Linked DNA regions of Homo sapiens: regions 2, 3, 4 and 5 are each linked to region 1. Evidence: fine-mapped expression QTL. A gene starts in region 1. Each other region holds a variant in brackets. All regions are shown on one strand. Distances are from middle to middle.

Region 1 (6,193 bases):
CTGTAGTCCCAGCTACTCAGGAGGCTGAGGCACAAGAATCACTTGAACCCGGGAGGCGGAGGTTGCAGTGAGCCAAGATTGCACCACTGCACTCCAGCCTGGGTGACAAAGCAATGCTCTGTCTCAAAAAAAAAAAAAAAAAGAAAGAAAGAAAAAGAAATGATGTTGAAAAATCCAGCCAATAACATTTTTGTCACAATAGGGGAACTCTCAAGTATAGGGTTTTGGAGAGTCAGATATTTCCTTTTCTCCCCGCCAGGGAGAAAGACCTAGAGGTTTCCCCCACTCCCTCTCACTGTCCAGAGCAATTACCACAATTTAGTTCAGCCTAAAGAGCATATGCTGTTGGAAAAACAGCAACAATAGACTTACTTGATGCAGGGATGCCATAAGCCTTAATTTTTTTTTTTTTTTTTGAGACAAAGTCTCACTCTGTTACCCAGCCTGGAGTGCAGTGGAGCGATCTCGGCTCACCGCAACCTCTGCCTCCCAGGTTCAAGCAATTCTCCTGCCTTATCCTCCAGAGTAGCTGGGATGACAGGTGCATATCACCATGCCTGGCTAATTTTTGTATTTTTTTTTTTTTAGCAGAAAGACAGGGTTTCACCATATTGGCCAGGCTGGTCTCAAACTCCCGACCTCATGATCCGCCTGCCTTGGCTTCCCAAAGTTTTGGGATTACAGGCATGAGCCACCGCGCCCAGCCAAACCTTAAATTTTTAAAAAAATCACACAGGAGGCTGGGTGCGGTGGCTCACGCCTGTAATCCCAGCACTTTGGGAGGCCGAGGTGAGCGGATCACCTGAGGTCGGGAGTTCCAGATCAGCCTGACCAACATGGAGAAACCTCGTCTCTACTAAAAATACAAAATTAGCCAGGCATGTTGGTGCATGCCTGTAATCCCAACTACTCCAGAGGCTGAGGCAGGAGAATTGCTTGAACCCAGGAGGTGGAGGCTGCAGTGAGCTGAGATGGCACCATTGCACGCCAGCCTGGGCAACAAGAGCGAAACTCCACCTCAAAAAAAAAAAAAAAGAAAGAAATCACACTGGATCTGTAGAAAGAACATCAGTTCTTTTCAGGCCATGTGAATTCAGGCACATCTACCACACCTGTCCTGTTTCCTCACTTGAGAAAGTGAGAATAACAACATCACACCAATGTCACTCACCTTGAATGTTTACTATGAATTAAATCAAGACAAGCATTTGGAATTATTTTGTGAATCTTAAGTGCTACACAGGAGTGTGGCAGAGGAATAAGCTTCTAAAGTCAGCAAGTAAGGTTAAAATTGAGTGCAATAAAAATTGCTTAGAAGTTCCTTAAATTGCCCATGAGCACAGTATGACAAACTTGAGACACATGAGAACAAAGACTCTCTGAGAGACAGCTGGGACAAACATTCAGTAACACTGCCAGCAAAATTGCTGCACTAGAACATTTTCATTTCCTCTTTCTGCCAAGTGCATAACTGAATCTAAGATGAAAGTATGATGCAACTTTGTTATTCTACAATTTGAAATTGGCAAGTTAAGAAACCTCTCTGGGCCTCTTTGTCTAATGGTGTAGCTCAGCTGGATCAGGGTTTCCTCCACGGTTTGTCTGACAAATACTGCCAGCTTACTATGCTTACTATGTTCCAGGCTGCTGTGTTGGACTGGGGGAGGGTAGACGCCAAGGAGACAATCTGATCGCAACAGGCTGGTGAGTGGTGAGGCAGTTTCAACCTCCATTTGAGGAATACAGGATTCTATCATCACCTTCCAGGGAATGCAGTGAATGTTTAGAAAAATTACAGAAAGTTACATATTTGGTTATGAATACCAGCTACAATGCTATATCTAATATGAATTAAGTTTCTTTGTTTCCTTTTTTCTGTTTATGTTGCTACTTTTTTTTTTTTTTTTGAGACAGTCTCACTCTGTTGCCCAGGCTGGAGTGCAGTGGAGGGATCTTGGTTTGCTGCAACTTCCGCCTCCCAGGTTCAAGCGATTCTCCTGCCTTAGCCTCCTGAGGAACTGGGATTACAGGCACCTGCCACCACGCCCAGCTAATTTTTGTATTTTCAGTAAGACGGGGGTTTCACGATGTTGGCCAGGCTGGTCTCGAACTGCTTACCTAAAGTGATCTGCCCGCCTCGGCCTCCCAAAATGCTGGGATTACAGGCGTGAGCCCCAGCACCCCGCCTACGTTGCTACTTTTTAATGTGGGGTCATTTTTTAAACCTGGCTTTTTAATTGAAAAAGTAATACAAACATATGGAAAAATTCAAACTGTACTAAAAAAGGTAGACAATGAGAAGCAAATCTTTCTTCTATTTCAGACTCCTCCTTCCCCCATTCCACACCATATCCCCTCAACCCTCCTTCTATTCAGACGTTACCACTGGGTCAATCCGTTGAAAGTTACAGCTAAGGTGATACCTGGGGTCCAAAAGCTAAATATGGACCTACGCTATCACCAGTCCCTTCCAGTTCTAAAACTAAGTCCAAGCCTTTTGCAGCACGAAAGAGATAGCCTCCTCTCATCTAAAGTTATGGCTGGTAAGGCTGAGACGAATGGAAATGGATTTCAAAGACATAGATTTAGAACTCCTGAAAGGCAGGAGACAGAACTCAATACTTTCATGGTGAGTGGTTTATTTACTGATTAAATAAACGCTCCCTTAGGGATGTAAGCTCCACACCGGCAGGAGCTTCATCACCAGCTCTCACTGCAGACCCCGGCATTAAAGGAGCTCACACGGTAAAAGCCCCTACCGCCCACCACAGCCACAGCGGCCGGCAGCCCAAAGTGGGAAACCGCGCCGGCCGTCACGTGACTCCAGCTCCCCCCGGCAACCGGCCCGCCCCCACCGAGACCCCGCCAATCCGGAAGGGAGGTCCAATTTGGCCAGGCCAGGGCGTGTTCCACCGGCCCAGTAGCCTTGCTGCTGCGTTATCCCTAGACTCGCCCCACTTGCCTCGGAGTCTCAGGCCGTTGCCTAGGTCCTCCCGGTAAAACCCTGGAGACTGCTAGGGAGAGGAGCAAGGGAGGGGCCAGCGCGCAGAAGTGCGGACGCAACCCGGCGGCCGCGGGCGAGGCTTATGCAGAGCTTCAAGAAACAGCTAGGGAGACCGCAGGAGTCTCCAGAGCGCGCGCGCGGGCCCTCCCCGGCCCGACCCACGCGGCGCGGCGTGGTGACGCCCGCGCGGCCTGAGGAAGGGGCGGGGTCGGGGCGGGCCTCCGCGCTCCTCCCGCCCTCTCTGTGTCCCTACTCTCCCTCCCCTTCCCTCCCCCACACTCGGCCCCGTCAGCTTGGGGGTGCCTTCGTCGCGCAGCCTTGCGTCGGCCCGGCCCGGCCAGGCCAGCGGGCAGATGCCCCGAGCTGCCGCCGCCGCCGCCGCCGACTCGGCCGGTGGCGGTGTGGGAGGTGGGCGACCAGCCCGGGGCCGCTGAGTGTGACGGACGCAACTGGGGGCGCCGGGGGCTCCGCACGGACCATGTATTTTCTGAGCGGCTGGCCCAAGAGGCTGCTGTGCCCTCTGGGGAGCCCGGCCGAGGCGCCTTTCCACGTTCAGTCCGACCCGCAGAGGGCTTTCTTCGCCGTGCTGGCCGCGGCCCGCCTCAGCATCTGGTACAGCCGAGTAAGTAGAGCCGCCCGCCGCCTTTCGCCGCTGCCTCCCCGGCCTCCCGGCGCCGTCCCACCCCCAACTTCCACCCAGAGCCTAGGACTCCTGCCCCTTCGTGCCAGACCCACCTGCCTTCGCAGTCCGCGTCCTCGTTCCACCGAATTGGCCGCAGGTACCCGCCGGCTGCAGGCACGTCCTCCAGCCGGCGGTCCGGGGTGGATGAAGTCGCTGCTGCCGAAAATCCCTGAGCCTCCCCGCGTTGGACCGACGGCCGCGGCGTGCAGACTCCGCACGCTCCCCGGCCGAGCCCAGACTTGTTCTTCTCTCCCTTCCCCCATTCCCCGAGGGACAAATTTGTTTAAACTTTCCACAATTAGAAATCCGGCCGCTGTGGTGCCCCAACCCTCCCTTACTTTAAAGGTCGCCGTTTTGGAGTTAGGGAAAGCCTCTTGGGCTTTACCCAGCGCCAGACTTTACAGGCCTGTAATAACTTATTTCTACAAACTACAGCCTGAATTCTTTATTCTTCACTAAAGGTCTGGTTATTTAACTCCCCTCTTTAACCCCAACATCCCTTCCCCACTTTCGAGTTGGTCTTTTTCTTTGCTGCTGCTCTTGGACTCTTCGGAATAGGGGGTTAAAGGAGCGGAAGTAGAACTCAAATCTGTCCGCGGAACTCCCAGTTATAACACCTGGAAATAATAAGGCTTGGGAGGAGCATGGAACTGAATTCTGTTTTTGCTTTAAGTCCTGGTTATCTTTTTCTTTCTTGTATTGAATTACTGAGTAGATATGAGAAAGAAATAAGTGGTGGATGGGATACTCCCTACTCTCTGCAAACACTGCTATAACTTTGTCTATGAGAACGACAGAGTTCAGAGTATAAAAATGCTTTTTTTCCTCCCCAAAGAAGGCAGTACCAATCGATGTCAGAGTGAAGTTTTTCTCCTTTCCAAGTTAATTTGACCATGTGGGGATAGGTTGTGATCTTGTCCTTATTAGGTGTTCGTGAAATACTGGTTTTAGTTTGTTAAAATCCCCAAATCTTTGTGTGTTGCTGTTCCATTACCTGTAATGCCCTTGACAGTCCTCACCCACTTCCCTGGTAATACTGGTGATGGGATTTAGTGACGGGTAATTCTGGTGTCTCCTTTGACTGTCATAGTTGGGCTGTAAATCAGACTATTTGCCATCAAGTTTTGGCTGATCTAATTTTCAAATGCAAATCAGAACAAAACAAACTTATAAAATCGTAATACCAACAATATGACTATTTTGTCTAGTGCCTGATTGTATTTTGAATATATATGTATGTATGTGTGTGTGTATATATATAAACATATGTGTAAATATATATAAAGTATCATCTGGTTCCTAAATGAGATATTCGTTTACAATGTATATGCCAGTTGAATAATTTTTAATTTGTTTAGGTGTATATAACTCAACTTTAAAGCACATGCAGAAAAAAATAGAACTTGAATTTAAATTGTCTTTTGAATTTAATACATAATTCCTTTTGAATGTAACAAATTTAGACTTTCGTCTAAAATTTAACTTTTCTTACCTTTAAAAAGGCAGACCTAACTTAATTTTAAATAAAAGTAAACAATATGACCTATGAATTGACCAGAAGCCTGTAAACCACTTTATTCCCCCATAAGAGAAGCATAAACATATGCTTTAATTTAGGGACATTGTGAATATTCTTAAGCATGTCTATTGTTTGGTTTTGGAGTTACATACGACATCTAGAAATCCAAGGCAGTTCTGGAATTTAAACTATTCATACTCTTCTTTCAAATTCCCACCTCACATGCAACTTCCTTTTTCCACAGAAGTCCAGGGACCCCTACTATTAAGTTCTGTTGTGCAAAAGTTAGGCTGTAGGGAACCCATGGGTTTAGAGGTCTGGAGTGAAATGAAATGCAGGAATACCTTAGAGGAGGCTGTATAGTACTGTAGTATGAGTGGTTAACCTTGGTCTCTGGGCACCAGCTTTGTTGTCACTGAAAAAAATCAGATATTCACGAGGTCAAGAGATCGAGACCATCCTGGCCAACATGGTGAAATCCCGTCTCTACTAAAAATACAAAAAAATAGCTGGGCGTGGTGGTGCACGCCTATAGCCCCAGCTACTCGGGAGGCTGAGGCAGGAGAATCGCTTGAACCCAAGAGGCAGAGGTTGCAGTGAGCCAAGATCCCACCACTGCACTCCAGCCTGGCGACAGAGCAAGACTCTGTCTCAAAAAAAAAAAAAAAAAAAAATCAAATATTGAACCAAGTGATTATAAGGTGTATGATTACATGCCTAGGTGAGTGGGATACATATGCTAGACTCCAGCTTCCAATCTTCTCTTCCTGGGATATGCCCTTTCTTACTCTGTATGAAAGTTTTCATTTTGATTTTCTAATTTGTAAACTTCCTGAAAGTATGTAAGTTAATTAGGTTAACAAACTTCATTTAAAAGTGAAAATGCCTTTAGGTAAATTAAAGGGCTATCAGTTATACTTCCATAATTTAGAGTGAATTGGTTTAAAAAGTTCTCATGGAGCTGCTAAAAGCTTTGATTTTTGAGAGG
Region 2 (6,193 bases), 150 kb after region 1:
TTACTTTTTCACTACTTACATCTTCTCACATTTCCCGGTTCTGCATTATGTCCAGATTGCTTTTTAAAAAATAAATGCTAAGGTGCTTGCTATAGTCTGTCAGGTACTTGAGCTACCTGTTTGCTCCCTTGGATACAGCTGGACTCTTTAATCAGTCCTCCTGAATAGATTGCTACCCTGGGGCACAATATGTGCCAGTGTGATGGAAACATTCTCCTTGGCTTTACTAGCCAGTCAAATCCCAGTCCAGAATTGATGGAAGCTATTTACCTGTGAGTTAATGTGCTTGTTTTAGCAAGCTTGATTCCCATTAGACCAATGTGGGCAGAGGTCTGAGGGGGTTCTTCTCAATTTTGCTGTTAGATACCACTAAACTATTTTGTATTAAAGAACAGTATCTTTTTGTGAATACTCTTGTGTAAATATATTCAAAGGCACTGTTCATATTTTAGGGCTTGTATTATAATTTGCAAGGTTTTAATGCTGGATTCTGCATGTCTACACATACAAAGACAGGGCTTGCTCCTCTGCAAAACTGAGGAAGACAGGTTTATTGGCTTGGTCATGAAGTAACAGAAATGGTCACACTGATCATGAAATGCAGCAAGTTTTGTGCAAATTAACATAGTCTCTTATTTATTGCTTTTGTAAATTGAATAAAGATGGACTTCTATGTAAATAGACTGCTGAATCCTGTATTACCACGGCTACTAAAAATTAGTGTGTAAAGAATGCATTCTTCATTGTAAACTTAAAGTATTTTATGTACTTCTAGAAATGACTTAAATTTGTTTTCATACATTATGAAAACAACTGCATACTCCTTAATTGCTTTAAACACCCATCCACTGTATGTAATTCTAATTACCTTATAACAGTATTAAGACAGCTTGTTTGTACTGTGCAATTTGAACAAGGAATGCAATGTTATTTTTTACAAAAAACAAACTTGTTTATTTTTATAATAACGATGTATTTGATGTGGACCAAATTCGTACCACTATCTAAAATAGCCTCTTTTCTCATAGTGCAGTTGTAGTTTAGAAACAAAACTTGGTCCTCTCTCCTTGCTTTTTAAAGTAAATGGCTAGATTTAGTTGTCTTAGCCAGGTTTCCTTTGAAGAGAAACTCAAAACCATTTTGAAACTGCTTAGTTCAGAATACATCGAAGTATTTAAAATTACTGAGTTGGGTAATTTACTATCATTTACTTTTTACATTACAAGTGCAATAATATTTCACAAAATGAAACTCCCGAATGGGTGGAGTATGTGATTATTGGTACCTGGTCCTTCTGGTGCTATTTTTATTTAAGTCTTTGTTTCAAACCACCTTTCCCTGAATCTTAAAGATAATGTTTTGCATGTGAGTACATGCAGCCCAGCAAGAAACTAAACTGAACTCTCTTCTCCTATCCTAGTCCATTAAGGAGAAGAACCAGCATTGCTTTTGTGTTTGGTGTGAATATTCAGTCAATAAAAATGATTTACCATTATAAAGAGCTGTGATCTTTTCAAGTATCTGAAATAAAACACTGTGCTGCTGAGTTCATCTCAAACATTCTTGAAAGCAGGGCACCAGTATAAGTTAACTGTATTCCTGTGGGTTAGGCCGTGAATGAATCATTTCTTTTATACAATATTCTTTTACAACTAATAGAGATAGGAGGCCCCCAGGCAAGAAGTTTGGCAGGTTTACAGAAAATTTGGTAATTTATTTGTTATATACCTTAATTTTTAAAAACCCATTTTTATTGTGGTGTTTGGTTCACATATCAACTGTTTAAGCCATAATTTTAGCCAATGAATTTAAATATTCAGTATAACTATTTGAGGTTTACTAGATGCATTTATTAATAAATTATTTGCTGAAACCAAAACAAGTCATTGGGGGTGTGGGAATAAAATCAACCTTTGCTTGTAATTAAAGTTGCTGCTATTTCTGTAATGTGTATTTTTCTCCCCTTGGTAAAGGGCAATAAAACCATTACACAAACTTTGGTTTATTCATCATCTCAGGTTAACAGCCACGAAAATCATCTTTTCATTATATAATTCTGCTTCTTAGAATTTTCCTTATGAAATGAAATTCAGACAGATTTATTTAAAATATTTATTTATATGTAGATTTAGAATGACAGCATCAAGAGTTCGCAACATCCTAGATGCCTGACAGTAAAATACTGGAGGAAACAGCCCATGTCGATGACATGGAAAATGTTCAAAATATAATGAAGGAATGACAGAAAATTATGTATACCTTAAGATACCTACCAAGCAAACAAAATTTTACATGTAAGTATAGAGGAACCTAGGCGTCATTTCTAATAAGCGGGATTAAAAAGTACTTTGACTTTTTCCCATTTTCCTAATTTCAGTCTCCATGGATTTGCCTATTCTGGACATTTCATATAAATGGAAACATATAGTATGTGAACTTTTCTATCTCACTTCTTGGCACCAAAGCATGTTGTTATTTTGGCTGTAGCCATCCAAGTTGTATATGAAGTAGTGTCTCATCATAGTTTAGATTTTCATTTACCTAATGGTTAATGTAAATCTTCTCGTAGGATTATTAGCCATTTGTCTATTTTTGAAGAAAAATGTCTGTTTAATTAGGTCGTTTCATTGTTGACTTGCTGGAGTTCTTTATATATTCTGGATACTACTCTTTTATGTACATATAAA[T/C]TGCAACTATTTCTTCATTCTGTGGGCTTTTCACTTTTTTAGGTTTCAATATTCAAGTTTTTTTTTTTAAGTAATGTTAATTACAGCATTTGAAGGGGAGGATCTAATTCCACACAAAATGGAAGACTCTAAAATGTACCCATTAAATACTGCTAAAAAAAAAAAACAAATTGAGTGGTGAGAATACAACAGAAGTCTGACTTAGACTGAGTGTTGTCAGCATGTGATTACAATCACACGGACTCTGAATCATTTCACTTTCTCCATAATGTCCTTTGAAACACTGTTTTTAAGTCCAACTTATTTTTTCTTTGGTTGCTTGTGCCTAATCCAGGGTTATGAATATTTACGACTAAGTTTTAAGAATTTTATAGTTATATCTCCTACATTTAGGTCTTTGATCCATTTTGAGTTAATTTTCATATATGATATGAAAGAGAGATCTGACTTCGTTCTTCTAACGTGGCTATTCAATTGTCAGAGCACCATTTATGGAAAGGATTTTTTTCCCATTGTCAAAAATCAACTATAGAGGTATGGGTTTATTTATAGATTCTTAATTGTATTCTAATGATCTATAATATCTTCTTATGCCAATACCACATTGCCTTGATTTCTGTTGCTTTGTAGGAAATTTTGAAAGCGAGAGTCCTAAGTTTGTTTTTTCTAGGTTGTTTTGGCTATTCTAGGTCCCTTGTATTTCCATATGAATTGCAGGATCAGCTTGTCAATTTCTATACTAAAATAAAGGCAGTTGGGATTTTCATAAGCGTTGTATTCATGACATAAAGCAAATGTGGAGAATATTGCCATATTAAGCCTTCCAGTCCATGAACATGAGATGTCTTTCCATTTATTGGGTTTTTAATGTCTTTTAACAGTGGATTATAATTTTTGCTAAGTCTCATACTTTTGTTAGATTTATTTCTAAGTATTGCTACTGTAAAAAAAATGGAATTTCCTGTTTTTGGATTGTGTATATAAATACAATTGCTTCTGTATATTGACATTGCATCATGCAACATCAAACTTTTTCTTTTTTGTGGATTCCTTAGGATTTTCTACATTGAAGGTCATGTTGTTTGCAACCAGAGATAGTTTGAACTCTTCCTTTTCAATCTGGATGCCTTTTCTTTCTTTCTCCTGCCAAACGGTCCTGGCTAGAGCCACTAGTACAATGCTTATTAGGTGGCAATAGTGGATATCCTTGTCTTCTGATCTTAGGGAGAAGCTTTCTCTCATCACTAATTATGATGCTAGCTGTGGGTTTTTTATTGATAAGCTTTATCTGGTTGAGGATGTTGCCTTCTGTATAGTTTGTCTTTTACAAAAATCCAAATCCCTTCCATGATAAAAACACTCAACAAACATACATTGCATCTACTGAAGTAGTCATGTGGTTTTTATCCTTTATTCTATTAATATGGTACATTACACTGATTTTCAAATGTTTTTGTTTTAAGACAGAGTTTTGCTCTGTCACCCATGCTGGAAGGAAGTGGCGCAGTCATGGCTTGCTGCAGCCTCAACCTCCTGAGCTCAAGCCATCCTCCTACCTCAGTTTCTATAGTAGCTGGGCCCACAGGCACACACCACCATGCCCTGCTAAATGTTGTGTTTTTAGTAGAGTCAGGGTTTTGCCATGTTGTCCAGGCCAGTCTCAAACTCCTGGGCTTAAGCAATCCACCCACCTTGGCCTCCCAAAGTGCTGAAATTAAGCATGTGCCACTGCACCTGGCCAACTTTCTGTTAAACCAACCTTGCATTCCTGGCATAAATTCCATTTGGTCATGCTGTAGAGCCAAACTGGAGGAAAAAAAAAATTATTACCAACATGTTATGTTTTTACAAGTCAAATATGGAAGTAGAAGTGTCAAAAAATACACTGATACACTCCAAAAATCCCTACGTATTTAAACTAAAAACAGACATTAAGAGCCATAACTGGGATTGCTGGCAAGATGGCTGAATAGGAACAGCTCTGGTCTGCAGCTCCCAGCGAGATCGACACAGAAGGCGGGTGATTTCTGCATTTCCAGCTGAGGTACCTGGTTCATCTCACTGGGACTGGTTGGACAGTGGGTGCAGCCCTGTGAGGGTAAGCCAAAGCCAGGGTAGTTCGTTGCCTCACCTGGGAAGCGCAAGGGGTCGGGGAACTCCTTCTCCCAGCCAAGGGAAGCCATTAGGGACTGTTAGGGACTGTATCTTGCAATCCAGCCCAGATACTGTGCTTTTCCCACAGTCTTTGCAACCCGCAGACCAGGAGATTCCCTCCAGTGCCCACGCCACCAGGGCCCTGGGTTTCCAGTACAAAACTGGATGGCTGTTTTGGGCAGACACAAAGCTAGCCGCAGTTTTTTTTTTTCATACCCCAGTGGCACCTGAAACACCAGTCAGAACCATTCACTCCCCTGGAAAGGGGGCTGAAGCCAGGGAGCCAAGTGGTCTGGTTCGGTGGGTCCCACCCCCACAGAGCCCAGCAAGCTAAGATCCACTGGCTTGAAATTCTTGCTGCTGGCACAGCAGTCTGAGCTTGACCTGGGATGCTCCAACATGGGGGGAGGGGCGTCCACCATTGCTGAGGCTTGAGTAGGCAGTTTTACCCTCACAGTGTAAACAAAGCCACTGGGAAGTTCAAAATGGGCGGAGCCCACTGCAGTTCAGCAAGGCAACTGCAGCCAGACTGCCTCTCTAGATTCCCTCCTCTCTGGGCAGGGCAACTCTGAAAAAAAGGCAGCAGCCCCAGTCAGGGACTAACAGATAAAACCCCCACCTCCCTGGGACAGAGCACTTTGGACAAAGGGCAGTTGTGGGCGCAGCTTCAGCAGACTTACTTAAACGTCCCTGCCTGGCAGCTCTGAAGAGAGCAGCAGATCTCCCAGCACAGCATTGGAGCTCTGATAAAGGACAGATTAACTCCTCAAGTGGGTCCTCCCAGTAGGTGCCAACAGACACCTCATACAGGAGAGCTCTAGCTGGCATCTGGCGGGTACCCCTGTAGGACGAAGCTTCCAGAGGAAGGAACAGGCAGCAATCTTTGCTGTTCTGCAGCCTTCACCAGTGATACCCAGGCAAACAGGGTCTGGACTGGACCTCAAGTCAACTCCAGCCAACCTGCAGCAGAGGGCCTGAATGTTAAGAAGGAAAACCACCAAACAGAAAGGAATACTATCAACATCAACAAAAAGGACGTCCACTCAAGAGAACCCAGCTGAAGGTCACCAACTTCAAAGGTAGATAAATCCACGAAGATGAGGAAAAAACAGCAAAAAAAGGCTGAAAATTCCAAAAAGCAGATCACCTCTTCTCCTCCAAAGGATCACAACTCCTTGCCAGCAAGGGAACAGAACTGGACAGAGAATGAGTTTGACAAATTGACAGAAGTAAGCTTCAGAAGGTGGGTAATAACAAACTCCTCCAAGCTAAAGGAGTGTATGTTCTAACCCAATGGAAGGAAGCTAAGAACCTTGAAAAAAGGTTAGATGAATTGCTAACTAGAATAACTA
Region 3 (6,193 bases), 310 kb after region 1:
AAGTGCTATTTTGACAGTATAATACATATAAATATGAAAAAAGTTAAAAAGTACTTTAACACTGACAGAAGCTCTAACATGAACTATTATATATGCTATTATTTTCTCTTGATACTCTTACCAATTTTTACTTAAGACTAGGAGAAAAGGAACGCGTTTGTACTTTAAAGGCATCCCACACTGAATACATTGAATAGTATATCCAACATTTCCATTATATTTCTAAATTAGCATTTAAATAGAAAGCATGAAGGCAAACTACAACAATAACAATAATGATAACATTTCAAGTTTCTCTGTCTTCCAGCTTTGTAGCGGGGGAAAAACTGGGTGACAGGTCACATTCCTGGTAAGGTAGTTCACTATCACCGGGGAAGAAAATCTAACAATATACATTTAAGAGACAATGTGCTACCATTTTCATTTACAAAGAATGAACCGTGGACTAGAAATTAACCACTGGTTGAGTATCTGAATTTGACTGTTTTCAATAAATTGATATTAAGCCAACAAACTGATGATATTTTAACAGATCCATATATGCTATCAGAAAGATGGGTTCTCAAACAATTCACAGCACAATCTAAACCACAAAGTAATGGCATGTTTATTTGGCATAAGAGGGGCATAAAAAGTTCCAAGTAAGTGAAATTAAGACGGGAAATATTTGAAAAGCAGGGACAGTATCCTACTTACTTTTATTTTTTCATATTCTCTCACAACGCCTAACTCTGACAGAAAAGGCCCACTTTAAGTGTTCCACTACATAAGCACATTTCTCATGTAACTGAGGTTTCTTCCTTAGATACAAAAGGTTATTTAAAAACTGATTAAAATGTTCCTAAAGTATAAGTCTTTCAGATTTTCTGACAATATAATGAATATAATCTAACTTGATGACTTGGGTCATCATTATGAACGAGTTATTTTGTTAGTTTTAAACTCCTAAGACCTGCTTTTACTTATTTTTTTCAATTGCTTTTTAAAAAAATTATTCATTAGCCGGGCATGGGGGCTTATGCTTATAGTCGCAGCATTTTGGGAGGCAGAGGAAGGTAAATCACTTAAGCCAAAGAGTTCGAGACTAGTCTGGGAAACATGGCAAAACCCTGTCTCTACAAAATATCCAAAGATTAGCCGGCCATGGTAGTGTGCACCTGTAGTCCCAGCTACTGGGGAGGCTGAGGTGGGAGGACTGCTTGAGCCTGGAGGTGGAGTTTGCAGTGAGCCAAAATCACACTACTGCACTCTTGCCTGGGTGACAGAGTGAGACCCTGTCTCAAAAACAAATAAATGAATAATTTATCAGTGTTTCATGCTGTCAGTAAATCTGCCTTAAACATCTCCTGTCCTAATTAAAAGCAGCTGCTACTACTTATTAGAATTACATCTTAAAGAACTGGTTTCCCATAAGGTCTTTCTATTTTAAAGTAGTGGAACATCCACATGTGTACTTTGTGCTCTCTATTTAGGCTCCTTTGTGCTCTCTGCTGGATTCTGGGTTAATTTTCCTTCAATATATGATGTATAATTTTTTTCTTTTTCTACAGAGTCTAGTAAGATGCTAAGAAAGTTTTATTAATATTCAGTCCACTGAGTTTTGACATAATTTCCCAACTCACAAAAGGCACTGAATTAAAGTCTTTCCAAAGATTTTTATATCTTCTATAATACAAAAACTAAGAATGATGTAAAGCTCATTTTTTTACCTTAACCTTCATAGATTTAAATTCAATTTTCCAGAACCATGGAAGGTAGTAATCAAACTGTTAAACAGAAGACAATACAAATTTATTGGGACTTTGAAAAATGTTTGACATTTAAATTACTTATATTTGAATAAGGGTATGTGATACGTGATTGAAAAAGGTTTAGGCCAGGTGCGGTGGCAATCATGCCTGTAATCCCAGCACTTTGGGAGGCTGAGGTGGGTGGATCACAAGGTCAGGAGTTCGACACCAGCCTGGCAAATATAGTGAACCCCTGTCTCTATTAAAAATACAAAAATATGCTGGGTGTGGTGGCACGTGCCTGTAGTTCCAACTGCTCAGGAGGCTGAGGCAGGAGAATCACTTCAACCCGGAGGCGCAGGTTGCAGTGAGCCGAGATCATGCCACTACACTCTAGCCTGGGCGATAGAGCAAGACTCTGCCTCAAAAAAAAAAAAAAAGGGTTTAAAGCAAATTATAAAAGACACACTAGCCTGTAATCCCAGCACTCTGGGAGGCCGAGGCGGGTGGATCACCTGAGGTCAGGGGTTCGAGACCAGCCTGGCCAATATGGTGAAACCATCTCTACTAAAAGTACAAAAATTAGCTGGGCGTGGTGGCACATGCCTGTAATCCCAGCTACTAGGGAGGCTGAGGCAGGAGAATCGCTTGAACCTGGGAGGCAGAGGTTGCAGTGAGCCGAGATCATGCCACTGCACTCCAGCCTAGGCAAATGAACAAGACTCCGTTTACAAAAAAAAGAAAATAAAAAGAAAAAGAAACACTAGAAAGCTCTTGACTACAGAAGGATCTGTACTTAGGTCAACTCCTCTGAAACTCAACTCTGTGCTGGGATAAATGGAATATACAGCATTAACTCCCTGCCTGATGTAAAACCAATGTACAATCTTTCTTTGGAAGAGAGAGGTTTTCAAACATTGTTTTCATGCAACTTTCCCTGATGGGATTCAAACCATCAAGCCAAACTGCAGTAAGTAGAAACAGTGAGCACTGTAAACCAAAGTTAAAATCTAGTTCTTAGTTGTGCAGAGTAGAATATGAATGAAGATAATGCATTCTCAAATAATTCAGTGACTACAGTCAACTGAAGCTTTGTTTGCCTTACCAGTCATATATATCTGGTTCACATTTCCTATC[A/T]TCTAGGTCCCCTTTTTCATTATTATTCTGAACATGTCAGTTAACATTTGATTCTCCATAAAATTCATGTTATTTGCCCTTCTACCCTACTCCCAAACAACATATTAATATAAACATGTAATTAAGGGAAGTGAGCAAATGTCTATGGTGTCTGGTGACTTATGAATAAACAGCTTGAAAATAAAAGATTAAATATTTTATAAAAGGACAGGGGCTAGCCCAACCAACCCTAATTAAAAATAAAAATTTTAGCACTTTGGGAGGCTAAGGCAGGAGGATCAATTGAGCCCAGGAGTTTGAGACCAGCCTGGGTAACACAGCAAGACCTTATCTCTTCCAAAAGATACAAAAATTAGCCAGGTGTGGTGGTTTGAGCCTTTAGTCCCAGCTTCTCTCAAGGCTGAGGTGGGAGAATCACTTAAGCCCAGAAGGTCAAGGCTGCAGTGAGCTAGCTATGATCGTGCCATTGCACTCCAGCCTGGGTGACAGAGCAAGGAGCCCCTATCTTAAAAATAATAAAAATAAATTAAAATAAATAAATATTTTAACCCACAGGTTGAGGATAAAATCTTACTCTGTAAGTGAATTCCTTGACTATAGGAACTTAGTTTTAATCTCTGGATTCCTACCAAGTTCCTGGTACTATACACAGCACATAGAAGACATTCAGAAAATAGTTACCTAATAAATAAGGCTAGAATCTGTAACTAAGCAGGTAAAAAGCACATTTTATCTGTTGTGCAACATTTCCAAAAGGTCATTTTAATTTTTAAAAGACAGTGTAACTATTTAAAGGTAGATTGATTTTCTCCCACAGCTGAGATAGTTTTCAGTTTTGTTAACCATTAACGAGTTTACCAGAAGATCTAGAATAAAAAATATATCGTACACATGATGTGACTGTTAAAACCCTAAATAAAACTAATTTTAAGAATAATTTAGAGATTATTACAACCAAAGCCATGAAGTAAAGTAATTAGGGCTTACTGAGAACTCTGAATATACTTAAATCTCCTTATACTGTAGTACAACAGATTTTGTATTCTAAACAGCTGGCTATAAAATAATATTAAAAATATTGACTTGATACCTTACTGAGAAAATGGGACATGAAATGGAGAGAAGAGGGAAAATTCCATTATCCTTCAATAGAATAGAATAAAATTTATTTTTTACAGGTGTTAGAAAATAAGATTAATGCACAATAATTTCTTTGCCTCATATCAGTATTCATATAGTGAAAGCCGTTATTAATGTTATAAAACCACTTATTACACGTAGTTTTATAACATAATTAAAACACTACTATTACATGTGTAATAAGTGGTTTTATAACATTATATGTAGTTTTATAACATTATTTTATAACATTACTTGTCAATATTTTTCCATTTACTTATGTTATCATTCCTTACAATATCTTCAGTTAAGAACATATCACATCATATTTCTAAAACTGAATAAAGAAAATACATATATAACCATATTGTTTGTAACTTATTTCCTATACTAAGGGAAGCTAAGGTCAAGAATCTTTCTTAATCATCGATGGAATCACGAAAGGTAAAGGTTAACACAGACATTCACAAGTTCCATCAAGTACAAGTCTTAATTAGAAGTATATTATGTAATAGAATTCTCTCTATGATGGGATCTGGTATTATGATTTCAGTGATTTCTACCTAACTTTCAAAACATCAACTTGTTTTCTCTCCAAGTAAGTTGGCAGCAGTGGACAGAATGAAAGAATAAGGCCCTTAGCAAATACAGGCTTTTACCAGGGTTTTACAACCTCAGCACAACTGACATTTGGGACAAGACAGTTCTTTGTTGTGGAGAAATGTCTGTGCACTGTAGGATCATTACAGTGTAGGATGTTCAGCAGCAACATTGGTTTCAATCCATTAAATGCCAGTGCCACTTCTTCAACTATGACAATCAATGTGTCCTAGGGAAGGGGAGCAAAATCATTCCTGATTGATAACCACTGGCTTATACAGAACTCTGTGACCAAAAAACTGGGGGAGTTAGCATCTCTGATCTAAGCTTCTGACTTCTCTAATATTCAGTCTAGCTAATGTACACCCTTTGGTTAGGTAAGAGAAGTATTATTATTGTATTCTGAATTTACCTTATTTTAAGAACATAATAAAGATTAATTTTATCCATTACTTGAAATTTCTTTCTTTTTAACATATCTTTTTACATACTGTAATCATTATGTACATATTATTTTGTATGTCTTTTTGTTTTGAGATAGTCTTGCTCTGTCGCCCAGGCTGGAGTGCACTGGTACAATCTTGAGCACAGTGGTGCGATCTTGGCTCACTGCAGCCTCTGCCTCCCTAGTTCAAGCAATTCTCCTGCCTCAGCCTCCCGAGTAGCTGGGATTACAGGCACGCGCCACTACAGCCTGGCTAATTTTTGTATTTTTTGTAGAGACAGGGTTTCACCATGTTAGCCAGGCTGGTCTCGAACTCCCAACCTTGTGATCCGCCCACCTTGGCCTCCCAAAGTGCTGGGATTACAGGCGTGAGCCACCGCGCCTGGCCTATTGTGTATGTTCTTAAAACTTAACATTTCACAAATATTTCCGTATTGTAAAAATGATCTACCAATTTTGCTAGCTATATAACAGTGTGTTAATATTGTTTAGTTAGTCACCTCGCTACTGCTGGACATATGGATTTTTTCCAAATTTCCACTACGAGGGGTGGTCTGCTAAATACACCATTGTGTACATTACTTTTGGGGGTAGGGAGGACAAATGGGGAGAAAAGTTAAATTCCAAATATCATCACAGGATCAAAGCAAACAGGCGGTTGTGCTCAATATGTATAGCTTTCCTTACATATTGATTATAAAATTTAGAAATAAATAAAATCTTAGATCTTACTCAATGTTGAGGGGCTTATCTGATAAAAGATGTATTAGAAAAGATGTGGTCTTACATTTAAAATTTAATTATCAATATTTATAAGACTTTCATTTATCATCACATAACCCAGAAGAGGTTTTTTTCCTTATAAATAACATAGTTATTGCAAAATTTTCACTTTTCCTCATACCCAATCTCTACAAGGGTCTTTCCTTAATTGAAAAAGACTGAAACTTCTTTGAAAATCAGAACTATGATACAGAACATAAAGGGCATTAAACAAATATGAGGGAAAAGGGGATTATATGAAAAACTTAGAAATATAAGTTTGGCGAAATCTTCCAATTTTTATTATTTAGAAAGCAATACTATCTAACAAATTTCAAGTACAATAAGATCAGGTAAAGTTATCAATATCTTAGCTCTATCTTTCAGGAAAACTAATAAA
Region 4 (6,193 bases), 120 kb after region 1:
ATTTGAACCTTCTCATTTTACAGAGGAAGAAACTTATATCCCGAGAAACGAGACAGCTTGGCCAAGGTAATATATACAAAAAGCCAAGCTATAATGAAGACTCTAGTCTCACAGCTTCCAATCCAATGTTTTTTGCTCCATACAAAACTGCATCTGTTGTAGGGGCTTCTTTGCCAGGCTTCTACTGGGTAACCTGGGGTGTCTTCTGTAAGGAATTTCTTTGTATTTGAGAGGCAGCTAAATTAAAGCAATAGAGAAGTTACAGAGCACAGTAGGTATTTTTAGGATTAAGACCCTGAAATTGGCATTAAGAATGGTAGGTAATGTTTTCACTTTTGCAGATAGAGAGCAGTGATGGTGATTTCCTCTGGAGTTAGTTAAGAGGTAACTGAAGGTGTGATTCTTGTCTGTGTTATCACGGTTTCTCCAACCTTCACAAATCATTAATAATGCTATCATTGGCTATTTCAGAATTTGAATAATTGAAGCTAGAAAGGGATACAAAAGCCTTTTATTGCTCTGACTTTTTTTCTCCCTCCTCTTCTCTCTAAGAGCTGGGGTGCAGAAGGCTATCACCTATGGGTAATCAGCGGATTTGGTTCTCAAAACACTGAAATTGAGTCTGACCTCAGGAGTGTAGTTAAACAGCCCAGCATCCTGTTATTTCAGTTTATTAAGAGTGTACTCACTGTAAACCCTTGTATGGTAAGTATATTTAAAGCTCTGATTTTTTAGTGTCTTTTGTGTTAGAAGCTCAGACCCTTCTTTATGACATATGTATGGCGTATACTTCTAAAATTGGCATATTATCTTCTTTTCTATGATTCTTGTGTTTCTTTTTAATTTATATTAAATTTATACCAAAATTTTATTTCTCAACGGGTTGTGTTTCTTTGGTCTTATTTTTTTAAAAGGGTCATAAGCAATTTGACGGAAAGCAATGTTTATATATTTATTTAAATAATTTGAGTAATTTAGTCTTTATCTGAATAGCATTTCCCAAAGTGTGTTCCTCCAGGCACTACTTATGAGAGATATTAGTAGCAGTTCCACAGGATTTTTTAAAAGTTTTGTTTCCATATAAGTGTCAAATAAAGGTAAAACAAAATTGTAGAGATTGATTGTAGGGCTCCAGAGGCTTAAATATGCCATTGTGCATCATGAAAATCCAGGAGGTGGTATATTAAAAACAGTGTTCCCCATGCTTATTTAACTGTGAATTTTTAAGAAATAGCTTAAAGAAAGTATGTCTGAGGACTTGCTTTTAGAAACACCGCCCCAAACACTGCCTCTTGTATTTCTATCTGAAATAGTGTATACTAATATTATTATATATCGCTAATATACAGTAATGGTATATGTTACATGTTAGAAATGTGTATCTTAATACCTACCATCAATGGCTTTTTAATGGATATTTGGTACAACAAATTTCTAATTAAAATTTACGAACATCCATAAAAAATGTGAAAATAGCCTGAATTTCAGATCCATTATTCCACTTGAAGACTAAGGATCCCCAGAAAAGAAGAGAGCATTTCTCCCTCCCCTTCCCCATCCCAAATAATAATTTAAAAGCACCCTTGAGTTTTATGTCAAGCCAGCATTTGGACTAAAATGGAAAAATGACAAGGGTAGGGTGCTACTTTGTCTGATTTCAATAGTTAATGAGTCTACTCACCTTTGAGAACACTGGCTTTCTAGCTGAAATCTCATAGTCACTAAGAGCACTATTCTTTCTAATTATAACAGTGCATGAGATTATTGTGTAGTCTTTGTCCTCTGTGAAGAAAATCAACATCGAGATACATGTACATTTCCTATAATAAAACTAAATCGATGTGTTATTTTTGCCTGCGTAATATTGAGTTGTTTTTATTTGTTTTCCTCCTTTGCCCTTTTGTTCCTCTTTCCCTCATTTAGAGTAACCAAGAGCAGGTGTTGCTTCAGGGTGAGGATCGCTTGTACTTGAACTGTGGAGAGGCTTCACAAACCCAGAATCCCAGGAGTTCTTCAACACACTCTGAGCATAAGCCCAGTCGAGAAAAGAGCCCATTTGCAGATGGAGGTTTAGAGTCTCAGGGATTAAGCACTTTACTTGGACATCGGCATTGGCATGTTGTACAGGTAAATCTTTAGTTACTGATTACTAGAGACTTATTCTTTGATAGGATATCACCTGGAACAGATTATTAAATATTTCATCTGTTAACTTCAGGCAACTGAGAATCCTTTTAACCATTTTGTCATGTCCCTCTTCTGCTTTTCTGTGTTCTTGTCCTCTAGTCTTCTCCCTCCTTTCTTTCCACTTGGCGTAGAGTGTATCCCCACCTGTTTCAAGTCTATTAATAATGTCAAGAACTAGAAGTTTATGTTTTGCCTTCTCATTGAGAACTATTTATTTTACTTTCAGCCTCTTTTTTTGTATAAATTTAGCTCTACGGATTTGCACAGGCAAAACAAAGTGTAATAATCTCATGGAAAGTGGCAACATCAGCTAGTACTCTGTACAGCTGACCTTACAGTCTTAAGGGGCCACGTTGAGGTTAATCATGTGACTTTGGACCCAAATTGCAGACTTGTGATCAGTAGAGAGCTTTATTGTTAATACTTTTATTAGCTAATCTTATTCCAAATTATTTATTCATTCTGATATCACTTTTAAATTAACAGTGTCTCACAGTAATTCTGATAAACTGACATTTAACATGGAAATTAATTCTCAATTTTGATACCAAGTAAAATTATTTTGGGGAAACCAGTAAGTTGAAGTTTCTTAAAAGAAACTTGCATACATAATTTCAGTCTTCCGACTGTTTTCTTTCCCTTTTTGATAGCA[A/G]AATATTTTAGGTACATCAAAGCCCACTCTTAGTTTCTTTTAGTCAGTTTCTGTTTCCATAATTCTTTGCCTTACTTTGACTCTCTATATGTTTACCCTACTAGCCTACTTCAGCTCCCATGTTATTTTCAGTTGACTTTGAGTGAAGATAATGAGAGACAAAAAAATGGTCATGTGAAAGGTTGAAGGATTATCTCCTACATTGACATCTGGTATACACTAAAAGAAAATGAACTTAACTTACATTAATAAATTCATAGAATCAAACAATGTACATACCATTTTATAATTAGTAACAATTTTTAAATAAAACTGCACTAGCTACTTCCTTGACTAAAATTTTCCACTGCTCCCTTCTCTCCTATAGCCATTTCTCTGCTATTTTCATTTCCCCATACTTTGAACTATTCATTCTACACTGACCTAGCATCAATGCCAGTTCTGCCTAGCCAGGTCTGTGTTACCAGAGAGCCAAGTAGAGCAGAGGATCAAAGAAGGTAGGTCTGGAACTAAAAAATCGATCAGGCAATAACAAAAATTGAATTTCCTTCCAGCTCAAAAACTCAGTGATTCTGTGATTCTTAAGCATCTATGAAGTACCCCATATAAGAGAAACATTTTAACACTGATTTTAGGACTTTGGGTACTAGCAAGATTCCACTGTTATTCTGTTCTTTAGATAGCTAAAGATATTTAGACAGATGAACTTTTAAAACTTGAGTTTACCTAGTTTATCAGTTTCCTTAAAAATAACATAAATAATGCCACATTGATTGTTTTGTACTGCTGAAACAATGAAAATGGGCTCATAGAATTTTTCAAGCTGGAAGGACCTAAGAGATCATAAAGTCCAACTGGATTTGATACATGAGGAAACTGAGGATCAGAGAAGTTATATGACTTGTCCAGTTCACCCAGCAGAGTAGTGGCAGACTTATCTTTATCATCACTCTACGTTAAAGTAAAAATCTAATGTATTTTAAAACCGAGGTACTGAGCATTAAATCACATAATACACCACTGACCTTGAGCTAAAACTTAGAATTCGCCTATTTGGCAGTTTGTACTTGGAGTTGCCCTGTATTTCGCTGGCACTCCAGCTACATGATTCAGTGCAGTTATGGTGGCGGTGTATAGGGCAGTATACAGTGTCTATATAATGCTAAACTTTTACGTTCTAGGCTTTTTAGCCATTTATGATGACTCCCTGAAGAAACATAGTTGCCTGGTTTAATTTGCCCCACAATAGTATCCTTTTTTCTAAGATAAGTGACCACATCCTCTGTCAAAGTTGATTTTGTTTGCGTGATTTATTCGTTGTATGTATGCTTCTTGTATAGCTTAGATGAACTCCAACTAATTCTGCTGCTTGTTCTGTTTCTCATTTAGAGTACTAGCTTTTTGTTTGTTTGCTTAAACCTGCTACCTTATACTCCTTAGCTTCCAGATTGGAAGATTCTATGTTACTTATGATTTTTCTTTAACTAAAACAAAACAAATACATACTTGTCAGAAGCAGGATTGGTAACTGGCAGTAAAGGCGGTGCTTTTTTTTTTTTTTTTTTTTTTTTTTTTTTGAGATTGAATTTTGTTCTTTGTTGCCCAGGCTGGAGTGCAGTGGCGTGATCTCAGCTCACTGCAACCTCCACCTCCAGGGTTCAAGCGATTCTGCTGTCTCAGCCTCCCAAGTAGCTGGGATTACAGGCACCTGCCACCATGCCCGGCTAATTTTTGTATTTTTAGTAGAGACGGGGTTTCACCATGTTGGCCAGGCTGGTCTCAAACTCCTGACCTTGTGATCCACCTGCCTCAGCCTCCCAAAGTACTGGGATTACAGGCGTGAGCCACCGCACCCAGCCAAAGCAAGCACCAGCAAGCACCAGCCAAGGTGCTTTTTAAAAAGTTTTTTCTTACCTATAAGTTTTAAAACTTTTGAAGTCATTTGTTGACATATGGGGCACAAACTATTGAAATTTTACAGAACACAAAGTTTCTAGTTTTAGGCCATGTTCCTTCTAAGACTGCCATTTATTTTAATGCTCAGTATTTTGTATGATGTAAGCATTTACTTCTGAAAGGTACATAAATCTATTATCCATTGTTCTGAGGGTGTTGGTTTGATGGTTAGCTTGGCTATTTAGAAAGAATAAGCTTCACAAAATGTGGAAGATAAGCACCTACAGGGTATCAGGCACTATGTTAGGGATTTCAACAGAGAGTATTTAAAGGCTCTTTCATTCATAAATTATTTACTGTCTTCCTACAGTATGTATCAAGTGTACCAGGTATTTGGCACAGAACAAATCTGCTAGGAGGATGGCTCCCACAGTCTCACTAGTTATAGACAAAACTAATCTAGGCAGGAGACAGAGTTTTAGCAGAGTTACTTTAAAATTTAAAAATCATAATAACAAATGAGGGCGGATTCAGTTTCTTTAAGAGAAACTGAAACATTCTAAGATAAGGGTAGAGTTTCTGTACCTTAGCACTCAGTTTTCCAGTGATGTGGCATGACTTCAGTGCCCTGAGTGTGCTTTCATGACCTGTTTTTTTTGTCACTGATCAGCTGCCTCTTCCTTACTTCTGCCATTCCCTTTTATCAAGTATTAGAGGTAGAGCTCAGAGTTCAGATGACACATAGATCAATAAAGTTGACCTACTGGAGAAAATACATAGTATCTTTAGACACAAACTGCATGAAAAATAAAGCTTCATTCTAAACTTAACACCTTAAGTTTTTAAAATACATCATTTGTGGCACTTCATAGATTTTTGTAGAATAAAGAATAAATTGTTTTATAGATATTGATCATAGTGTGATCATTTGATAAGATTTAACTTTGGTTCCCATTATTAGAAACTCTTTGTGTTAGAATCCACTTTTGCAGTAAGATCCCAGCTCCTCCATTACCCACCCACACGTTTCATAAGTACTCATGAAACACCAAGGTTTGAGGGAGGTAAGGATTCCTTTTAGTGCAATGGATGATTGACACAGTTATACTCAGGTACATCCTCCTGCTGTGAGTGACTGCTGAAAAAAGTTGAAAATGCTTTCAAGTTTTATTTCACCACCCAATCATTACCTTAAGTGTACCATTATTCTGAACTAATTTTACCCATCATAGTGATCTTTTTGGGGGTCTGGGGGGCAGGGAGACAGAGTCTCACTCTGTTGCCCAGGCTGGAGTGCAGTGGTGCAATCTCGGCTCACTGCAACCTCCGCCTCCAGGGTTCAGGTGATTCTCCTGCGTCAGCTTCCCGAGTAGCTGGGATTGCCGGCACCTGCCATCACGCCTGGCTAATTTTTGTATTTTTAGTAGAGACGGGTTTCACCATGCTGGCCGGGCTGGT
Region 5 (6,193 bases), 240 kb after region 1:
TTTTGCATTTTCCAAGTTTTTGGCAGTAAGTGTGTTACTTTTAATAATAATTTTTTAATCAAATAATTGTGAACACTTTATCATTATGTGATTGTTGTACGGTAGAATATAAATGAATAAAAGCAGATTTTAAACACGTAGGTGTGCTATTACACATAATACACTTCCATTTTGGGGGGTAAATTGCAGATGAGCCCCTCTCTTACACCAGTTTCCATTGGTGTTGGGACTATATTGTTTGTAGAACTATTACTAGTTACCTCTTTGATTTCTAGATCGAACAGGATATATTGTTTGGATAATATTTCTTCTGTTTCGGGGAACAGAACCAATATTATCCAAACAACATACCCAAACCATAGGATCCAACAATAGTGGGGAGAGGATAAGTAGGCAGAGGATTGTTGGATCCTACTGTTTGGATATATACAAACAGAGCTGCTCCTCCACACAGCCTGGGGGCTGTGCGAGAATGCTATTAATATGCAGACTATGACAAACAGCCCAGAATTGGTAGCTCACTTGATGCTTTTGAAATCACTTGTACACAGATTATCTCACCTCCCTCTCAACCACTCCAAAAGACTGATTTAGGTCAAGAACAGATGAACTTGTAATTTCATAGAACTGGAGGCATGGGAAACTAAGGAAACCTGTAATCAAATTTGAACAGAAGGTCTTCAAACCCAAAGTACTTGATTTGAATTAATAGTATTATAAAAGTTTTTTCAAAAATCTGAGTGGCGATGAGAGGGTCAGATGATGACCCAGCTGTGGGAAGAGAGGGTGGGGATGGGCAAAGAGCAAGGTATGTATATTAGTGCTGTGCTTCCTGTTCCTTTTCTATTCGTGAGCCCTCAGGCAAGTTACACAAGCTCCCTGAGCCTCATTGGCCTCATCTGTAAAATGGGACTGGTAATAAGAATGGGTTGTTTGAGGCCAGGCACAGTGGCTCATGCCTATAATCCCAGCACTTTGGGAGGCTGAGGCAGAAGGATTGCTTGAACCCAGGAGTTTGAGCAACATGGTGAGACCCCATCTCTACAAGAAAATTTAAAAATTACCTGAGCATGCTGGCGCACACCTATAGTCCTGGCTACTTGGCAGGCTGACACAGGAGGATCACTTGAGCCGAGGAGGTCAAGGCTGCAGTAGGCCATGATTACACCACTACGCTCCAGCCTGGGCAACAGAGCAAGACTCTGTCTTGGAAAAACGGGGGAGTGGGGGGGTCTTGTTTGAAAACCAAATGAGTTAATTTGTATGTATAACATGTGCAGAGTATGCTCATTAAATGAGTATTATATTTCTTATTTTCTGAAAAACCAGGAAAACAGTACTTTCTTATTTCTTCTTCAGAAGATGGGGCCAAGAGGGTGGGGAAGCCCACAGCCATTGCCTTGTCTTAGTAGGTCTAGGAGGCAGGGGGAGGCCTCTGCCATCCTTGCATGGTTGGGAAGAAGTAGAATTATACAGCAGTGACCCCAAAGGCCGACCTTGAGCAGCTAGAGGATAGGGGAGGTGGGCATCACTCACTTTGCAGTTTTGCCAGCGTGTCACTGTGGCTGACTGACCACCTCTGGCCAAGTTTGAAATAAAGACAGGGTGAGCTGAAATTCACATGACTGAGAGGCAGTGGAGCAGAGTGGTTCATGGTCTAGATTTCAGAGCCAGTTCAGCTGGGTTGGAATCCCTGTCTCTCCACATCCCGGCTGTGGCACCTGGCCGTGTTACTGAGTCCCCCTTTGCCTAAGTTTCCTCATCTGATGAAAAAGGAATGATGATGATGATGATGATGATGATAACAGTACCAACCTCTCAGTCTTGTTTTGAAGATTAAAGGAGTCCATTTGTATGAAGTGTTTAGAACTGCATCTGGCATGTGGCAGGGGTTTGCTCTTATTATTAGGCACACACTATGGAATGAATAGGAGAGACAATTTAGGTCAGAAAAGGTATCTGAGATATTGTTTCCCTGGATCACAGTTTACACTTGTAGACAGGTGGCAGAGAGCTTCAGAAAGGCTTGTTCAAGCTCAGATAGTCAGATGGCAGGAGGGAGGCCAAGAACCTTGGCTCCTCAACCCTTGGTCTCTGTGCTCCCTATGTAGCCACACTTGTGAATCCAGGCAAAGTTGTGTCATGAATATGAGACATCACCAGCTCTCTCATTGCTATGTCACCTCTGTGGGACCCCAGGAATCTATAGGCTCCCCACCTTAGCTGGAACAAAAGCTGGAATAAAGCAGGTAACAGGGTCAGCAGAGTTACCCTAAGTCGTTTGGGACTGCAGACAAGTTCACGGGAAAGGAAAGTTACTTGTTTGGTACCAAAAGCCACCAGCCAGCTAAAGAAACAACCCTGCCCTGGGGGTTAGAACGGCAGCCCCCGCTGAGGCAACTGGCCCAGCATTCCAGGGATTCAGACAACCCGAGAGCACGTACTCTGGAGGGAATATCGTGGCAGAAAACCGGGCCTCACAGTTACTGCTGGTCACATGACCCTCTGGTAAAGGCTAAGCGCAAACAGCAGAGAAGGAAATCTGATTTTTCCATAGGAAGACATGCTCTAATAAGGTTCTGATCTTTTCAATATCATTCATTACTTAATATAAAATATTATGCCAAAACATAATACCAAATAAATACCGCAGTAAACCATGCTAATCATAAACAATTAGAAAACATAGAAAACGTAATGAAGAAAGTAGAATTATCATTTTTATGTGGTTCTTTTTGGCTGTTTATGTGTATATAATATATAACTTGACACAATTTAGGTTATAAAGTACATTAAATTGTATATTCTGAATTTGGTATATTATTTCTTTTATTTATTATTTATTTATTCTTGAGACAGGGTCTCACTCTGACAGCAAGCCTGGAGTGCAGCGGTACGATCATGATTCACTGCCTTGACCTCCTGGGCTTCAGCAATCCTCCCACCTCAGCCTCCTGAGTAGCAGAGATAACAGGTGTGTGCCATCATGCTTAGCTAATTTTTGAAATTTTTTGTAGAGCTAGGATCTCACTATCTTACCCAGGCTGATCTTGAACTCCTGGGCGCAAGCACTCCTCCTGCCTTGGCCTCCCAAAGTGCT[G/A]GAATTACAAGGGTGAGCCACTGTTCCTGGCCTGCTTTTGGTATATTATAAGCATTTTTCCATGTCATTAAATATTCCTTAAAAATATTTTTAACAGCTGCAAAGCATTCTGTTGGATGGATGGACCATAATTCTTTGAAATATTATTAGGTTATTTTCAATTGTTTTTACAGCTACAGGAATGCAGCCCTAGATCACTTGTACTTCAATATGTGTGCACACCTCTGATTATGTCCTGAGGTTGAAATCCTGACATGGACTGGCTACTGAGGTTTTGCTTCTGCCCTTAGGAAGGACTTAAAGCTCCCCTTTCAGGGCCCCTTGGGAATGAGGAGGAGAAGGAGTGAAGTTAATGGAACAGATGCAAAATCATTCTCAGGACATGGTGGTAAAAGGTGAGGGTGTCAGTGATGGTAGGTTGGAAATGCTAGTGTCCACATGGGGGCCTCTCTCTCTAGCTTCCCACTTTTGGGGATTCTGTTCTCTAGCCTCCTGACCTGCCATCTTAGAAACCTGTCTCAAATGACTGTAGCAAAAGGGAGAGTCAATTGGAAGAATCCTGAAATATCTTCTGTAATCAAAAGAAGGGCATTTGACCAAACCATGGGAAGGGCAGGATACAGCTGGCCCTGGACCAACCAAATAACCCCATGGGAGGGCAGGTTCTCAAAGAATATGAAACTTCCACTTTGACCTCAAGGAGTTGGGGCAGGACAGTGCTCTCAGAAAAAGGAGATACTAGTTCCTGGAGAAAGGGAAGGCTCATGGCCTTTTGGATGTTGTTTTCTAAGAAGATGAGGTGGCAAGATGGACTTGGGGCTGCTGCCTCCCACTAGGGGCGCTACCTGCCCATGCTGTGGAAAAGTCTGGGCGTGGGAGCCTTTGTTCTGGTTTTGCTCGAGGCCTGAGGGAGGAACATTCTTTTAGATTGTCTCTCCGTTTCTTCCTGCTTTCAGGTTGGTGAGTCCTCTAGGACAAAGAGATTCAAGTATGGACCTTGGGGACAAGGGTGAAGGCAGCCAGTAGAGGGTTGCTCAGAGGTATACAATTAGCACTGTGGGCTTCCATAAGGTGCAGCCCAGCTCAACAACCTGAAGCTTTCACACAGAGATGTGGGGCCAAAACGAGTCAATAACAAATGCTGTGCTGATGCCTAGAGTGTCCCTAGTGCACATCTTTCTCCTGTACCTGTGGTAGAAGAAGGCTGGGAGTCCTAGCCAAATATCTGTCCAACTCTTCATCACTATCCAGAACAGAAGAACATGTTTAGGGCTTTTGAGACACATTGCCAAATTGCTCTGTTAAAAATGGAATATTTTGGGATCAAGCGAGAAGTCCAAACCAGGGGGCTCTTGCCAGTCCTGGGCATGTCATCCTCTCAATCAGCTTTAAGTAGCATGCCAGCATTCTGCACAGGATAGAGTTCTCCTTAGAATCAGTTGATCAGACATGACAGTCACAATCATACCACTGCTATTTGACAAAATATCGTATTGCTTTCTTCGATATAATGTTCTTATATCATTTTAAAAAACAGCTCCTGCTTTTTTTTAAGTAAAAAAAGTTGCTAGGGGAATGGAGTACTTTCAAACGTTGTTGAATTCAGAAGAGCTTCACTGGGACCCTGTTTTGCTGTGCTTTTTGTTGCCACTGAAGTTTCCTTCTTGAGCACAGGCATTAGCGTTCAGGTTGTAGGCTTTCTGCTTTCTCAGGGGTTGGTATTTCTTTGAAGACTGGCCAAACATGGATGAACACTTCATTGCAAGGACTGCCTACCATGACCTCTCTAAGCAACAACATGCTGTGATTGGCAGTGGGCCAGGAGGGCATGTGACAGGCTCACACCAGTAGCCACAGACTGGTATTAGCTGAAACGTCAAACCCTGTGTGGTTGTTGTATAGTTGCATGATTGAATCAAAGAATATTAGAGCTGGACGGACCCTTGGAGACCATAGATTTCAACCCTTTCCACCAGATCTACCCACCTTACAAATAAAGGAATTGAGACCCAGGGAGAAGAAAAGGCTTATCCATGGTTACACATAAAGAATAATCAGAATCAAGAATAAGGTGAGGCCAGGCGTGGTGGCTCACACCTGTAATCCCAGCACTTTGGGAGGCTGAGGCGAGTGGACCATCTGAGGTCAGGAGTTTGAGACAAGCCGGTCAACAAGGTGAAACCCCATCTCTACTAAAAATACAAAAATCAGCCGGGCATGATGGTGGGTGCCTATAATCCCAGCTACTTGGGAGGCTGAGGCAGGAGAATTGCTTGAACTTGGGAGGCAGAGGTTGCAGTGAGCCCAAGATCATGCCATTGCGCTCCAGCCTGGGCAATAGAGCAAGACTGTGTCTCAAAAAAAAAAAAAGAATAGGCTGGGTGTAGTGGCTCACGCCTGTAATCCCAGCACTTTGGGAGGCCAAGGCAGGCGGATCACCTGAGGTCAGGTGTTCGAGACCAGCCTGGCCAACATGGCAAAATCTCATCTCTACTAAAAGTACAAAAATTAGCTGGGCGTGGTGCCGGGTGCCTGTAGTCCCAGCTACTCAAGAGGCTGAGGCAGGAGAATTGTGCCACTGCACTCCAACCTAGGTGACAACAGCGAGACTCCGTCTCAAAAAAAGAAGAAGAAGAAGGTGAAATTTTTACAGTGTTAAAAAATAAGAACCATCAGCCTAGGATCCTGTACCGAGAAATTATCCTTCCAAAGAGCAGAAGAGGCTTCCAGTTTTCAGTCTGGCATGTAAAGGGCATGGAAGTCATCACTTCATCCTGGCAACAAGGAAAAAGCTAAACAAACTGAAAAAATAACTCGTCCTAGATCTGTCAAGGAAGTGAGGTCACAGGACAAACTGCTGCCCCCCAAATTAGAGACAGACAGGCAGATAATGAGAATCCAAACTTGCTGGAGCAGAAACTCACAAGCAGAAACCTCTGAGAGCCAGTGTCACTGCAGGAAAAACCTGCTCTATGATTAACAAACGAATGGCTGGAGGCTTGGCAATGACAAGTCTGAGAGTTAAGAGCCCCATGGACCCAGTTATAGGTAAAACACTTTTGTGAGTTTACCTTCTGGAGCTCTACCAGGTTC

Which allele goes with the higher level. Alleles are on the strand shown, and positions count from the first base shown. SD is a standard deviation of normalised expression in the study named. Not every link is listed here.
For the expression in monocytes after R848 of the gene that starts at base 3,280 in region 1, A is the high allele of the variant in region 4 and G is the other (moderate effect, 0.51 SD a copy in Quach 2016).

Evidence for each region. PIP is the estimated chance that this variant, and not a neighbour inherited with it, causes the effect. A credible set is the group of variants that fine-mapping cannot tell apart.
Region 2: its variant is the best candidate, but not a certain one, in a credible set for the expression of RIC1 in tibial nerve (GTEx, PIP 0.88).
Region 3: its variant is the best candidate, but not a certain one, in a credible set for the expression of RIC1 in whole blood (INTERVAL, PIP 0.69).
Region 4: its variant is the best candidate, but not a certain one, in a credible set for the expression of RIC1 in monocytes after R848 (Quach 2016, PIP 0.53).
Region 5: its variant is the best candidate, but not a certain one, in a credible set for the expression of RIC1 in whole blood (INTERVAL, PIP 0.73).

Annotation. Positions count from the first base shown.
Region 1 is chr9:5,625,828-5,632,020 of GRCh38, forward strand. RIC1 (RIC1 partner of RAB6A GEF complex) reads left to right here and starts at 3,280. Exons shown (of 26, transcript NM_020829.4): 1 at 3,280-3,626. The coding sequence starts at 3,483. It overlaps INCR1 (interferon stimulated noncoding RNA 1), which reads right to left and starts at 3,900. Exons shown (of 3, transcript XR_007061406.1): 1 at 3,740-3,900. RefSeq lists enhancers at 1,470-1,689, 3,600-4,100 and a silencer at 3,040-3,579.
Region 2 is chr9:5,774,563-5,780,755 of GRCh38, forward strand. It overlaps RIC1 (RIC1 partner of RAB6A GEF complex), which reads left to right. Exons shown (of 26, transcript NM_020829.4): 26 at 1-1,995. Among named protein-coding and RNA genes, the nearest start is that of ERMP1, 55 kb to the right of the region's middle. The variant T/C (reference allele first, on the strand shown) is at 2,688.
Region 3 is chr9:5,935,074-5,941,266 of GRCh38, forward strand. All of the region lies in intron 5 of BRD10 (bromodomain containing 10), which reads right to left. Among named protein-coding and RNA genes, the nearest start is that of MLANA, 47 kb to the left of the region's middle. The variant A/T (reference allele first, on the strand shown) is at 2,868.
Region 4 is chr9:5,745,379-5,751,571 of GRCh38, forward strand. RIC1 (RIC1 partner of RAB6A GEF complex) reads left to right here. Exons shown (of 26, transcript NM_020829.4): 11 at 553-705; 12 at 1,924-2,127. Among named protein-coding and RNA genes, the nearest start is that of ERMP1, 85 kb to the right of the region's middle. The variant A/G (reference allele first, on the strand shown) is at 2,840.
Region 5 is chr9:5,865,987-5,872,179 of GRCh38, forward strand. It overlaps a transcript of ERMP1 not described here. Among named protein-coding and RNA genes, the nearest start is that of MLANA, 22 kb to the right of the region's middle. The variant G/A (reference allele first, on the strand shown) is at 3,101.